Linked DNA regions of Homo sapiens. The protein of the gene in region 1 interacts with the protein of each later gene in a biochemical or structural test. Each region holds a gene or a part of one and is shown in the gene's direction. Other genes may lie near its edges.

Region 1 (3,649 bases):
ACTGTAGCCCAACATTGGCTGGAAGTGTCTCCTCACACACTATGCTCCTCTCCACAGTGTCCTGGCTGAGCGACTGGAGAAGTGGCTGCAACTGATGCTGATGTGGCACCCCCGACAGAGGGGCACGGATCCCACGTATGGGCCCAATGGCTGCTTCAAGGCCCTGGATGACATCTTAAACTTAAAGGTGAGTGTGGAGCCAAGTTAGCCCTGAGGCAAAAGCTGGGGTCCCCAGTGGAACATGCAGTTCTTAGGACAGAGCAGGGGATGGGGCCAGCTGACCTAGTGAGGAAATTTAGGCTCCTGCATCAGTCTTTCTGCATAAGTAAAGAAAGGACAGTTGTGCTAATTGACATTGGCTATGAGGTCATAGCCACAGACAGGATTATGAAAGATGCAAATATGCGAAACATGGCACATGACCTCCCTCCCTCAAGCTAGGCCCTTGCTTTGTGTGGTTGGGAAATGTTGGGAGTAGCAGAGAGAGGACCTAGGCAAATAGATGGGCATTTCCTTGAAGAAATCGGTTTTCCAGTAACATCTGGGTTGTGTTGCAGCTGGTTCATATCTTGAACATGGTCACGGGCACCATCCACACCTACCCTGTGACAGAGGATGAGAGTCTGCAGAGCTTGAAGGCCAGAATCCAACAGGACACGGGCATCCCAGAGGAGGACCAGGAGCTGCTGCAGGAAGCGGGCCTGGCGTTGATCCCCGATAAGCCTGCCACTCAGTGTATTTCAGACGGCAAGGTGAGCCCTGGCTTCGTACACACCATCCTGTTTACCTTGGCTGTGCCTCCTGGGAAACTCAACACACTTTCAGATTTCAATTCTGCTTTGTCATGTAGTCTGTTAATCACACAGTGCGGATACCTGGCTGGTTTTTAAGTTGGAGTATGGTGTCCTCTGTGTGGCCTGATAGGAAACACAAATCTCCTTGCTGGACTTGTTACTTCCAAACCCTCCAAGACCGGTCTCTTGCCTTTATTGCAAAAAATGATGCTATAACACTCGAATCTCTCAAGTTGCCTGCTTGGCCCTCTTCCAAGTGTACTAAAAAAAAAAAAAAAAAGGATGCTGCACTTTCTTGAGTCAACTGAAAGTATTTATGATGGCCTCTGTGTACAGAACTGGGTTAGGCACCTGTGTTAACTATAGCTGTGTAAGACATGACCTCTGCTCAAAAAGACCTTCTCAGCTGACTTGTGGAGCTAAAGTTATCATATGAGAAATAATCATTGCATAGGGAAGTATATAGTGAATTTCTGAACTTCCCAGGGAAGACAGAGAGTAAAATAGAATGTAATACGTTTGTAAATAAAGAGTGTGTTCAGACAGTAAGTGTGGCTGGAAACGTTAAACACTTCATGGATGCTTCCTACTTGCTGGCTGAAGATGATGCTCTTGCTGAACAGTGGGGAAAGCTGTGGAACTTCTTCATTATCAGTTAGAAAAGAGAGGGTTGGATCCACAAGATTCATTTTGTCCTTGTCCCTTTGCAGTTAAATGAGGGCCACACATTGGACATGGATCTTGTTTTTCTCTTTGACAACAGTAAAATCACCTATGAGACTCAGATCTCCCCACGGCCCCAACCTGAAAGTGTCAGCTGTATCCGTAAGAATTTGTTATGTTTTGTTTTTCTAAATAATCCGTTATAATATGTGGGACAAGGCAGGGAAGGGAGACTGGACTAAGGAAGGGGGAGCCACGTAAAGGAAATTAATATCGCCAGTCCTCAGGGCAGCCTTCCTTATTTAGGACATGCAAGGAGTAGCCAGGCAAGAGAGAGTACAGGAAACCATTAGTTAATTTCAACCTCCTAGGACGGGCGTGGTGGCTCACACCTGTAATCCCAGCACTTTGGGAGGCTGAGGCAGGAGGATCACTTGAGCCCAGGAGTTCAAGACCAGCCTGGGTAATATAGTAAGCTCGCAAGTCTACTAAAAATTTAGAAATTAGCCAGATGTGGTGGTGCATGCCTGTAGTCCAGCTATTCAGGAGGCTGAGGCAGAAGGATCACTTGAGCCTGAGAGTTCAAGGCTGCAGTGAGTCATGATCACCCCCACTGCATGCCAGCCTGGGTGACAAGAGCGAGACCTTGTCTCAAAAAAAAAAAAAAAATTCTGTTGAAAATATATGGCCCTATATACATATGTGTCCAATGGTTCGTAAAGTGTTCCTTCAAATCAACAGCTACTTATTGACCACTGGTACATGCTGTTGGTACAAATACATGTATGTGACAGTAACCAGGCATAACACCCTCCAAAGTTACATGATCCTATAGTAGGTACAAAACGTGAAAGTGCCAGTAGTGTCGAAGGCAGGATATGGTTAATTGTAGGAGAGTTATTGTGGTTATTCTTTGACAATTGCTTGTGTCTCTGTCTCCAGTTCAAGAGCCCAAGAGGAATCTCGCCTTCTTCCAGCTGAGGAAGGTGTGGGGCCAGGTCTGGCACAGCATCCAGACCCTGAAGGAAGATTGCAACCGGCTGCAGCAGGGACAGCGAGCCGCCATGTAGCGTGCCAGGCTTTTTTTTTAAACTTAATTTATTTAAAATTCCTTGGTGGCTTTGGCCACAGGGAGGTGGTTGAGGCAGGGACCCAGAAGCAACCGTTATGAGCAACAAAAGGAAGACACTGGTTTGGATGGACGGGAAGCGGTTGGGTGGGCTGGACTGACGGAGGCCCCTTTAGACCTGGCGAGGTGAGTGTGGTTGGCACAGGGTGAGGAGTGTGGAACTGAAGCTGGGCTGGCCAAGCTGTGGCTGGTTTGGGAACCCAGAGGAGCTCACTACCATGTGGATTAGCAAAACTCCCCTGACCGTGCTGCTGGGGACTTACGGACTCTTTCCTCATTGTGACTCGTTTGCCAACATTATTGGCCTTTTGTGTCTTCCTTTGCCTGATGTCAAGTTTAGTGCAGAACCTCAGGCATTGCTGAGGGCTAGGAAATTGTCCTTGGGTTATAAGTGGCTGCTATAATAATAGTGATGATGATAATAATTATAGCAGGGACCTCCCTTGACATTTGAGGGGGTTTTGTTATTGTACAGGAAATGGAATTTGGATCCCAGAGATGCTCCAAGACTGTTCCTTGTGGTCCCTGCAGGATGAATCTCCTCCGAAACAACAGCTGCCTCTCCAAAATGAAGAATTCCATGGCTTCCATGTCTCAGCAGCTCAAGGCCAAGTTGGATTTCTTCAAAACCAGCATCCAGATTGACCTGGAGAAGTACAGCGAGCAAACCGAGTTTGGGATCAGTGAGTGTGCACTTTGCAATGAGTTTAAAGACACCATTTTTTTTTCTTTTTCTCTTTCTAAGGTTTCTTTTGTCCTATTATAATTGAGTTGCTTATTTCTGTTTCAGTTTTGTGGTGTTTTTATTTTGTTTTGTTTTGTTTTTCCTTCTCAATTTTTTTTCAGCATCAGATAAACTGCTGCTGGCCTGGAGGGAAATGGAGCAGGCTGTGGAGCTCTGTGGGCGGGTAGGAGACTCATTTTGGGTTTCGGAACTTACCAAGGGGGTGAGATTTTGTGCTCCCACTTTTCACTTTCTCATCAAACACTGGGTCGATCTCTGTCAAAAATCAGGTGTTCCTCACCATGCTTTGAGCTTAACTGGACCAGCTGAAAAGAGGCC
Region 2 (3,557 bases), on another chromosome or scaffold:
GGGGACATGACATTCAGGCCACAGTGGAGTCAGTGCTGGGTTCTGCCTCCTCTAGGACTTGTGTTTCACACACGCACCAGCGGCCCTCCCAGCGCAGAGCTCCCTGCCCCCACTGATAGCACCTATATCCCCACTTCCCCTGCTCTCCTGATCGCCTGTTTTCTTGGCAGTTCCTATAGAAGAGCAGCGTGGGGACTACGACCTGAATGCTGTGCGGCTCTGCTTCCAGGTGACAGTGCGGGACCCATCAGGCAGGCCCCTCCGCCTGCCGCCTGTCCTTTCTCATCCCATCTTTGACAATCGTGAGTAGCGAGGGAGACGCAGGAAGGGGAGAGGGTGGGCCTGAATAGGAGGAAGGGGGTTGGGGTGAGTGTGGCCTGCAAGAGGCGCTCTGGCTTCATTCAATCATCTTGCGTATTTGTCTACTCTTCTCTGCCCAGCTCTTTGTTGGCTGGGGAGAGAGGGCAAAGAAGACCCAGAGCTGTCCTTGAGGTGTAGCTCTGGCCTGGCAGGAAGTCTAGCAGAGAGTCTGATGGGAGATGGGCATTTTCAGTATTGTGTGATGAGAAGGTGGTGTGCCCACAACTGCGATAATGACTCTAGGAAATGAACTCCCAGGAACAAGATAGTGTTCGAGAATGATGATTCAGTGATGGAAGCCCACAGATGAATTGGGCTGACTGATCAGCTGCAGTCTTTAGTTAAGTAACCAGCAGGATGAATGGAAATAAAACGAATCTGGAGCCCCAAGGATGGGAAACCAGGATAAACTGGGGGTCAGGAGGGAAGGGCTCATTGCCAAGGTGGGTATGGACTGGCCTTAAAGATTGCTTTGGTCAGGTGGAGAAAGAGTGTGATCAGATTGGCACCCACTGGACTATAAGCTCCGGGAGAGCAGAGAGGTTTGGGTTTTGTGTGTGGTCGTATTCTTGCTTAGATCAGTGTTGAGTGCACAGTAGGCAAATACTTGTTGAATCGGTTGGGGTGAGGAGCTAATAAGAAGGTCTGACTTTGGCTACAAAGGTGTAGGTGGCAAGCTCTGGGCAACCTTGACTCTGGGCTGGGCAGGGAAGTTGCATCTCCTGCAGGCCACCCTGGGGACCTCTCGTGGCTCAGGTCATCCTCCCTTGTTTTCACTGCCTCAGGTGCCCCCAACACTGCCGAGCTCAAGATCTGCCGAGTGAACCGAAACTCTGGCAGCTGCCTCGGTGGGGATGAGATCTTCCTACTGTGTGACAAGGTGCAGAAAGGTATACATCAGGAGGCAGGGGTGGGCTCTTGGGAGCAAGGGGTGAAGCTGAGCAGAGAAGTGGAGTGTCAGGTAACTGGCTTTGGATACTTCCTCCTGTGCCTCGGGGGCCTCAGGTGGGCCGAAGGGTGATGTATCAGAAGACAAGCATCAGAAGTTGAGGGGGAGACCATGGAGGGTTAGACACACTGACCCACACTGCCACCGCATCTCCTGCAGAGGACATTGAGGTGTATTTCACGGGACCAGGCTGGGAGGCCCGAGGCTCCTTTTCGCAAGCTGATGTGCACCGACAAGTGGCCATTGTGTTCCGGACCCCTCCCTACGCAGACCCCAGCCTGCAGGCTCCTGTGCGTGTCTCCATGCAGCTGCGGCGGCCTTCCGACCGGGAGCTCAGTGAGCCCATGGAATTCCAGTACCTGCCAGATACAGGTACACAGCTGGGGTGGCAGCATCAGGGCAGCTGGGCTCTGTGCCGTGAGAGAGAGGCCAAGACTGCATGTCTGGGGCTGTGGTTGAGGGCCAGAAGCTGGAGTCAGAGCTTGGGATCCAAGAAACTGGAATCCATTTCTTGCCTCATTTAATAATAATGATACCTCAGACATTGAGCTAGTACTACACATCTGCCCCTATTCCAGGCACTTCACTGGATTACCTGATTTTAATCTCATGACCCTTTTGAAGTAGGAGATAGTGTCCAACTTGCCTGGGTTCACGTGGCTAGTAAGTAGCAGAGTCTAGCAGAGTCAGCGTTGGAACCCAGGCCATCTGGCTTCAGGATCCTTTTGCCACACTGGTTGTCTTGTCACTACCATACAGCCCAGCCACATTTTGGTCGAGGTTTGAGTGTCCACTTGGTACCAGGGCCTGTGCCAGGTATTGTGAATACAAAAAATGAGTAAGACATGCTCCCTGCCCTTCAGAGTCTCAGTCACTTGAGGAAGACAAATGTGCAAAACAGATCCTTAAGTCACGGAATGACATGTGAAATGGAGGTGTGCGCAGAGAAGCACGGGGGCACAGTGGCCTCCGGGGAGCTGGAGACAGCTGCATGGAGAAGGTGGCATTGAAGCTGGAGAAAGACACAGAAGTGTGTTCTCCAGGCAGGTGGCCCAGCACCTGGAAGGGAAGGGGTGTTGGCAACTGCACGGCCTATTCAGGGCCACCTTCGTGGTTTGAGCTGATGTTGGGCAGTGAGCAGGCTCAGAGATTGGAGGGCCTGGTTAAGCTGAAGGCCTCTAAGCAGAGAGGTGACAGGAGCAGATTTGGAAGTTGACTCAGGAGGCCACGTGTAGAAGATCAGAGACAGACAGACTCAAAGCAGGGAGGCCATTCTGGAAATGTTGCTGTAGTCCAGGAAGAGAAGATGCGGCACAAACCTTACAGAAGGAATAGCAGAGCAAGATCACATCTCCACCACTGTCCTCAGTTACCCTTCAGCCCTGCAGCCGTTTTGCGTCTTACAGACCAAGCTCAGTCTCACCTCAGGACCTGTGTCTAGCTGTTGCCTCTGCTTGGAATGCCCAAGGTTTTAATGCAAGTGGCTCATGCCAGTCCTTCCCTGACCTCTAAATTAGCCCTTCCCTCTACATTTAGACTGTCCTGACCTCACTTCCAGTATTGTTACATCACCATATCGTCCCTGGACCACCGTCACTTGAGATTTTCTGGTTTGGTTTTGTTTGTTTGTTTGAGACAGAGTCTCACTCTTGTCGCCCAGGCTGGAGTGCAGTGGTGCAATCTCGGCTCACTGCAACCTCCACCTCCCGGGTTCAAGTGATTCTCCCTGCCTCAGCCTCCCGAGTAGCTGGGACTACAGGCGCCCGCCACCACATCCGGCTAATTTTTTGTATTTTTAGTAGAGACGGGGTTTTCACCATGTTGGCCAGGGTGGTCTCGATCTCTTGACCTCGTGATCCACCCGCCTCGACCTCCCAAAGTGCTGGGATTACAGGCGTGAGCCACCACGCCTGGCCGAGATTTTCTGGTTTGTATATATGATTGTGTCCCTCTCACTTTTTCACTAGGATGCCAACTTTTTGGGAGCAGACACCTTGTGTGCATACTCACGGCCACATCCCCAGTGTCTAGAAGGGAGGCTGGCACATAGTAGGTGCTTGATAAATATATGTCAAGTTACTGGCGGGGAGTGAGAGAAAAGAAGATAATCATTCCAAGGTTTCTAGCTTTGGTGACAGGGCAGATGGCGGATGGTCAGGGAATGCAGGAGAAAGAACCTAGTTTTTGAGGGATGATGAGGTTGTCTTTGAATTGATGGAATTGAAGTGCTTTGGAGCTACTGAAATAC

Evidence for each region. Proteins that work in one complex are often made in the same cells at the same time.
Region 2: of the proteins of IKBKB (region 1) and RELA, one has a biochemical effect on the other in vitro, tested with the Homo sapiens proteins (4 studies listed by BioGRID and IntAct).

What each region holds. Positions count from the first base shown.
Region 1 is NC_000008.11:42,316,153-42,319,801, forward strand, and holds part of IKBKB (inhibitor of nuclear factor kappa-B kinase subunit beta), read left to right. Parts: intron 1-57; coding exon 58-187; intron 188-557; coding exon 558-752; intron 753-1,504; coding exon 1,505-1,619; intron 1,620-2,399; coding exon 2,400-2,523; intron 2,524-3,117; coding exon 3,118-3,269; intron 3,270-3,432; coding exon 3,433-3,494; intron 3,495-3,649.
Region 2 is NC_000011.10:65,656,411-65,659,967, reverse strand, and holds part of RELA (transcription factor p65), read left to right. Parts: intron 1-170; coding exon 171-302; intron 303-1,145; coding exon 1,146-1,250; intron 1,251-1,468; coding exon 1,469-1,681; intron 1,682-3,557. UniProt on the Homo sapiens protein: NF-kappa-B is a pleiotropic transcription factor present in almost all cell types and is the endpoint of a series of signal transduction events that are initiated by a vast array of stimuli related to many biological processes such as inflammation, immunity, differentiation, cell growth, tumorigenesis and apoptosis.